Homo sapiens: one gene and its partner. The protein of the gene in region 1 interacts with the protein of each later gene in a pairwise test. Each region holds a gene or a part of one and is shown in the gene's direction. Other genes may lie near its edges.

What was found.
Region 2: the proteins of SSX2IP (region 1) and SSX2 interact in binary tests that used the Homo sapiens proteins (3 or more experiments, as listed by UniProt).

What each region holds. Positions count from the first base shown.
Region 1 is NC_000001.11:84,648,848-84,652,597, reverse strand, and holds part of SSX2IP (afadin- and alpha-actinin-binding protein), read left to right. Parts: intron 1-600; coding exon 601-715; intron 716-2,070; coding exon 2,071-2,236; intron 2,237-3,750. UniProt on the Homo sapiens protein: Belongs to an adhesion system, which plays a role in the organization of homotypic, interneuronal and heterotypic cell-cell adherens junctions (AJs).
Region 2 is NC_000023.11:52,705,185-52,708,934, reverse strand, and holds the start of SSX2 (protein SSX2), read left to right. Parts: upstream 1-1,756; 5' UTR 1,757-1,823; intron 1,824-3,165; 5' UTR 3,166-3,185; coding exon 3,186-3,254; intron 3,255-3,692; coding exon 3,693-3,750.

The sequences.
Region 1 (3,750 bases):
CCACCATGCCCGGCTAAATTTTGTATTTTTAGTAGAGATGGGGTTTCACCATGTTGGCCAGACTGGTCTCAAACTCCTGACCTTGTGATCCGCCCACCTTGTCCTCCCAAAGTGCTGGGATTACAGGCATGAGCCACTGCGCCCGGCTTTTTTTTTTTTTTTTTTTTTTTTTTTGGAGATACGGTCTTGCCGTGTCACCTAGGCTAGAGTGCAGTGGTGCTATCTCGGCTCACTTCAGCGTCAACTTCCCAGCCTCTAGCCATCCTCCCTCCTCAGCCTCCAAAGTAGCTGAGACTGTAGTCCTGTGCCACCATGCCCAGCTGATGTTTGTATTTCGTGTAGAGACAGGGTTTTGCCGTGTTGCCTAGGCTGGTTTGGAACTCCTCAGTTCAAGTGCTCCACCAACCCTCAGCCTCCCAAAATACTGGGATTACAGACGAGTGCTGAAATTATTTTTAGTTTTTTAGGTTAACTCATTTGACATAAGAAGTACGAATAGATAGCCAGAGAGCAAACAAAGATAGCTAGAGCAATCATGTGAAATGGCAACTGTGTGGATGTTGAAATATTGATCATTATTTCTTTGGCTGTTTATGGTAGAGAAAGGCATTTGAAGAAGAAAGAGCCAGTTGGTTAAAGCAGCAGTTTCTAAATATGACTACCTTTGACCACCAGAACTCAGAAAATGTGAAACTTTTCAGTGCCTTCTCAGGAAGTGAGTACTTTATAAACTCTTTAATTTGAACATGCATATAAATAAAATTATTTACATATTACAAAATACTACATATTATTAATACAAAACTTTGGAAATCACCAATTAGAGCTCTCTAATTATAACTAAAAGTCAACTTTTTTTTGTTTGTTTTTGAGACGGAGTCTTGCTCTGTCGCCCAGGTTGGAGTGCAGTGACGTGACCTTGGCTGACTGCAACCTCTGCCTCCCAGCTTCACGCGATTATCTTGTCTCAGCCTCCTGAGTAGCTGGGATTACAGGCATGTGCCACCACGCCTGGCTAATTTTTGTATTTTTAGTAGAGACGGGTTTTTACCATATTGGCCAGGCTGTTCTTGAACTCCTGACCTCAGGTGATCCACCCATCTCAGCCTCCCAAAGTGCTGGGATTAGGCATGAGCCACTGCGCCTGGCCTAAAAATCAACTTTAATATTTTATTTACTGTAGTGAAAGTGAGGATGAGAGGGGGACTGTGCATGCCCAAAGTAACTTTTGTTGTGAGTTTGTAATAATGCGAAGTTTTTGAAAATTTACATTGAGAATTTCTTTTTTCAAGATGTAGTCTTGCTCTGTCACCCAGGCTGGAGTGCATCTCGGCTCTCTGCAGCCTCAGCGTCCTGGGCTCAGGCAATCCTCCTTGCCTCAGCCTCCTGAGTAGCTGAGACTATAGGCACACACCACCATACCCAGATAATTTTAAAAACTTTTTTGTAGAGACAAGCCCTCGCTATACTACCCAGGCTGGTCTCAAACTCCTGGCTTAAGCAGTCATTCCGCCTCACCTTCCCAAAGTGCTAGGATTACAGGTGTGAGCCACCCCACCCAGCCTAGAAATATTTTTAAAACTAGATCCTTTTGGCTGGGCACGGTGGCTCACGCCTGTAATCCCAGCACTTTGGGAGGCCGAGGCAGGTGGATCACGAAGTCAGGAGATCGAGACCATCCTGGCTAACACAGTGAAACCCCGTCTGTACTAAAAATACAAAAAAATTAGCCAGGCATGGTGGCGGGCCCCTGTAGTCCCAGCTACTCGGGAGGCTGAGGAAGGAGAATGGCGTGAACCCAGGAGGTGGAGCTTGCAGTGAGGCAAGATCGCATCACTGCACTCCAGCCTGGGTGACAGAGCAAGACTCCATCTCAAAAAAAAAAAAGATCCTTTTAAACATGGGTGGACTATGCAACAAAGATAAGCAAGATTAATGATAATTAATTTGAATTTGTTCCATCTCTTTCCTCACTCAGAACCGCAGATGAATCATCCTGATGATTTACCTTCACTATATTTAATGCCTCACCATATGTACTGCCTTTTTCTCTTACTTGTTTTACAACAGGTTCTGATTGGGACAATCTTATAGTGCACTCGAGGCAGCCGCAAAAGAAGCCTCACAGTGTGTCTAATGGGTCTCCAGTTTGCATGTCTAAACTTACTAAATCTCTTCCTGCTTCACCTTCCACTTCAGACTTTTGCCAGACACGTTCCTGCATATCTGAACATAGGTATTTGTCTATAGGTGATCTTTTCACGTGTTTCTAAAAATTGCTAAAGTTGCACTGCTAAGGGAAAGGTGGCATGTCTGTAGTATTAGCAACAATAGAGATTTTGGAGAGGAATTTAGTAGATGATTTATTCATTCTACAAATATTGAGTGTCCAGTATATATAGACACTGTGCTAGATGCTGGAAATACACTAGTGAACAGGTAGATCTGTTGTCTTCTTGGAGGTAAATCATATGATGTGTGTCTTTTTATTTCACATTTAAGATACAATTTAGAATGTAGTCTTAATTATAGGAGTTAATATTTTAAGCACTTTAATTGTATTAAATGGAAGGATATTGTTTTGACAGTTTTTGTAGAGTACATATCTTAACACTTTTTTCCGGCATGCCCATTTTATTGTTGTTGAAGGGCAAAGAACTGAGAAAAGCCTGTTCCTGTTGAGTGAAAAAGATTTGTGCCCAAGGATGACAGTGTAAAAAAACATGGCTCTCCACCCTGGGAAACCCATATGTTGCTCTTAATTGCTACATTTTGGTGTTTTCCTGTATCTCAAGTTATTATATCATTTTCTAAGATAAGATCAATACTCTGCTTCAGTGCCAATTCCAAGATTAGTTTTAAACGAAGAAGAGGAAGCAGGTAGAACATTCCTAGTAAGACAGAGAGGAATAGAAAAGATCAGAGGGGTAAGTTGGAAAGTATGGTGGTAATCTCTTTGCTCTTAATTAAAAGTAGGAGATAATGGCCTTGGAAAACAGTCAGAGCTGAAGCAAACTCGGCCTGTGTTAGAGACTGGAGTGGAACTAAGTGTCGAAGAAGCCAGCTGGCCCTTGGGCCAAGAATTATGAAATAGATGGAGTTTAAAACAAGAAAGGAAGCTTTTAAAAGAAGGAGGAGAACACACTATAAGTTGTAGTTGACTTTTAAGAGGTGGGGGGATTAGGACTCCAAGTAAATGTTAGAGGGGATGAAAAAGAGCTAGGTAAGAGCACTCTAGCCAAGTGTAGGAACCCTGAGGGTGGGACACACCTCATACATTTGCAATGGTGACCAAGACCTAGAGGTGTGAGATGAGGATGGAGAGATGTAAAAGTTCAAATATACAGAGAGGATAAGATCGTGAACCCACGTGTACCTATGACTCAGGTTCAGCAATTATTAACTCTGATCAATATTGTTCATATATAATCCCACTCTGCTTGCTCTCTCCACCCCAGCCCCAACACATCTGGGATTTCATTTACAGAATATTTTAGTGTGCATTTGCAGGTCAAATATTGTTCTAAGGGGAATAGAAAAAACACTAGTTTTAAGCAAGAGAGTGAAAAAAAGTCTTAAGTTTTAAAAAGATTACTGTTTTATAATATTGAAAACAGATTGTAGGAGTCTGTAATATAAACCAGGAAATCCAGTTAGGAGGCACTATTGGAGTGGAAACGAAAGACAATGGTAATTGGACTAGGGTCATAATATGAAGGAAGAAATGCTTGGATTTGGGATCTATTTTGA
Region 2 (3,750 bases), on another chromosome or scaffold:
TGGAGTGCAGTGGTGTGATCTCAGCTCAATGCAACCTCCACTTCCCGGGTTCAAATCATTGAGTGAGCCCAGGAGGTCAAGACCAACCTGGGAAACATAGCAAAAGGCAGGGTGGTGCATGCCTGTAGTCCCAAGGCCGAGGCGGGAGAATCACTTGAGTCCCAGAGGTAGAGCCCAGCCTGGACAACATAGCGAAACTGTCTCTAATAGAAAAATTAAAAATATTAGTGGGGGCGGGGTGGTGTGAGCCCATAGTCCCGAGGCCGAGGCGGGAGGATTGCTTGAGCCTAGGAGGTCGAGGCCAGCCTGGCCAACATAGCGAAACCCCATTTCTGCTAACAACAAGAACAACAGAAAAATAGCGTGGGCGGGGTGGCTCACTCCTGTAGTTTTGAGGCCAAGGTGGGAGCATTGCTTGAGCCCAGGAGTTTGATACCAGCCTGGCCAACAAAGCGAAAGCCTGCCTCTCCTAAAAAATAAATAAATAAATAAATAAATAAAAATGAGCGGGGTAGAATGGCACACGCCTATAGTTCTGAGGCCGAGGTGGAAGCATCATCTGAGCCTGAGAGGTTGAGGCCAGCCTGGGCAACATATCGAAACCCGGTTTCCACTAAAACGAAACAAAACAAAACAAAAAATAGCTTGGGCAGGGTGGTGCATGGCTGTAGTCCTGAGATGGGAGGATCCCTTGAGTCCAGGAGCTTGATGCCGGCCTGGCCAACATAGGGAAACACGGTTTCTACTAAAAAAAAAAAAAAAAAAAAAAGCGTGGGCAGGGTGGTGCATGCCTGTCGTCTCGAGGCCATGGCGGAAGGATCCCTTGAGCCCAGGACGATGAGACCAGCCTGGCCAACATAGCAAAACCTGGTTTCTACTTAAAAAAAAAAAAAAAAAAAAGCGTGGGCTGGGTGGTGAATGCCTGTAGTCCCGAGGCCGAGGTGGGAGGATCGCTTGAGCCCACGACGTCAAGACCAGCCTGGCCAACACAGCGAAACCTTCTCTATTAAAAAATCAAAAAATAAAAAATATTAGTGGGGGTAGGGTGGTTCGCGCCTGTAGTCCCAAGACGGAGGCTGGAGGATTGGCCAAGGCAGATGTAACCAATACCACAATCACATCCCATAAGTAAATACATTTTCCTCTCTTCAGGGCTACAGGTAAAGGATGGTAATTGTGCGCACCATACTTAAGATTCCCTTTCAAAAATGTAAGCAGAGGTTGCGGGGCCTTGGACTGTTTTTTCAGTGGCAACAGACATAGAAGCCACTGAAGAATGAAAGCCACGACTAAGTATAGCAAACCTCCGCAAATGTGCTAGTTTGGAAAACATCGTGTCTTTCAAGTAGAAAAATCACAGATTGACTATTTTTTTCTTCCCACAGTTCAGACTAGAATCCAGATTTTTAACCCAAGATCCAGGAACGGTCTTCAGAGAGTTCAAAATCTGACGGCGCCTGAGGACCACCCACTTTTTCGCAGTGGCAACAAAGTGTGGCTGGAGGAGGAGACATTATTCTGCTATGTCACTGCCCAAGGATGATGGACCAATCAGGGCAGTTAGTGAACTCCATCTGGCCAATTAGAAGTCAGAACAGTAGGCGGAACAAGCGAAGCGGATGTGGCTTCTATCAGTCCCGGCTCCAGGGACGGAACCTTCTCAAAGTGGGGGTGGAGACTCTAATTTTCCCGCCTAAAGCATCCCCTGGGATTGGCTACTTTAAGTTCAGAGTACGCATGCTCTGACTTTCTCTCTCTTTCGATTCTTCCATACTCAGAGTACGCACGGTCTGATTTTCTCTTTGGATTCTTCCAAAATCAGAGTAAGCATACGCCGATTTTCTTTTTCCATTCTTCCTACCCCTCCCCTCCTCCGCGGTGCATTTGCTATCTAGTTTTAATAAGGAGTGTATATGAGGCAGGCCGCCATCTCGAATCTTTCCTGTCAGTTTCTAACTTTTTCAGGTACGGGATTTTTCCTAGGAACTCTGTAGTAACTTAAGAAATTTGGGCCGGGCGTGGTGGCTTACACTTGTAATCCCTGCACTTTTGGAAGCCACAGCTGGTGGATCGCCTGAACCTAAGAGGCGGAGGTTGCAGTGAGCCATGATCACGCCAGTGCACTCCCGACTGGGCAACAGAGCGAGACCCTGTCTGAAAAAACAAAAACCAAAAAAGCTCACTCAAATCTTTCCTCCTGGGCTCAAGTGAGCCTCTCGCCTAGGCCTTGGGGCTACAGGCGCGCACCACCCCGCTTCTGCTAAATTTTGTTTGTTTTTTTTAGTAGAGATGGTTTTGCTACGTTTGCGAGCCTGGTCTCAAGCTCCTGGGCTAAGGCGATCCGCCCACCTTGGCCTTCCAAAGTGCTGGGATGGTACAGGCCTGCTCCACCAACCCCAGCTAACTTTTTGTGTATTTTGTAGACGGGGGTTTTGCTGTGTTTCCCAGCCGGGTCTCGACCTCCTGGGCTCAAGCGGCCTGCACGCCTCGGCCTCCCAAAGTGCTGGGATTACAGGCGTGAGCCACGGCGCCTGGCTGATTGCTGCATCTTGAAATGCCCCACATTCTCTCTAAGTGATGGCGGGCTCTTGTAGTCTCAGAAATTCTAGCTCTCTTCCTTCTAATAATTTACAAATCACCGAGTAATAGCCTCTGAACACGTTCATATTAGCGATGCTCATTTCTCTTCAACAGAACAGAACCCCCCATCCCTCTGCCTGATCAGATCCATCGCCAAAGAGACCATGTTATCTCTGGGACTAACTTCCCTTCCTTTATTTATTGAGTGGGGGTGTCAGCATGCCCCCACTGAATAAAATTACACAGTCATGTCCCTGCCTCCCCAAAAAGGGTCCGTACATCTTTCAGGGTAAGCCTAGCTCCAGGGAAACTACTAACAACATTAGCCAACCCCCTCCCAAAGACTCAAGGCTGCTTTGCCCATAGGAAACCTGTCATTCCCTATCAATACTTCTCCCAGAGACCCCTGGTTCCCTGTTTTCATCTGATTTCTCCCCATATCCTTACTCAGGGACAGATAAGCCCCGGATGGAGAAATGCAGCAGCTGATTCCAGGTGACTGAGGGTGGCCGGCCTTCACTGACTTCTCCCTCCACAGGATCAAAGCTGCTGTGGCTGGAAAGACTCAGGCTATTTCTCTTGCAGGTCAGACTGCTCCCGGTGCCATGAACGGAGACGACGCCTTTGCAAGGAGACCCACGGTTGGTGCTCAAATACCAGAGAAGATCCAAAAGGTGAGGTGACCTGGAGGGAGCAGAGTAGTGGCCCAGGGGACAGTGTGGGGTGACCCGGTTTCTGAGGAGGGGAGGACAGAGATACTGGAGACAAGGAGCAGGGTCTCGGGGGAGATCTGGACCCTTGGGAGCCTCCCACCCTCGCTCTGTCATCACCTAGCATCCCTGGAGACAAGTCTGTGACCTTGCACTACATCTGGTGACTCTCAGTCCATTCTGGAAGGTGGGAAGAGAGCCAGCCAGCAGCATTAAAGCCCTACTGTGTGGCAGGGGTGAAGCTAGGGAAGGTCCCTCGTGTTCTGTCAGTTAGCCATGGCATCAACCAGGAAGGATTATCATCCCCAGTTCCCAGATCTAGCACACAGGAAGCGGCTCCAGCTGAATGGCAGACATGCCTAGCTGAGTCCCTGCCATAATTCCTTTTTTTTTTTTTTGTAGGCCTTCGATGATATTGCCAAATACTTCTCTAAGGAAGAGTGGGAAAAGATGAAAGCCT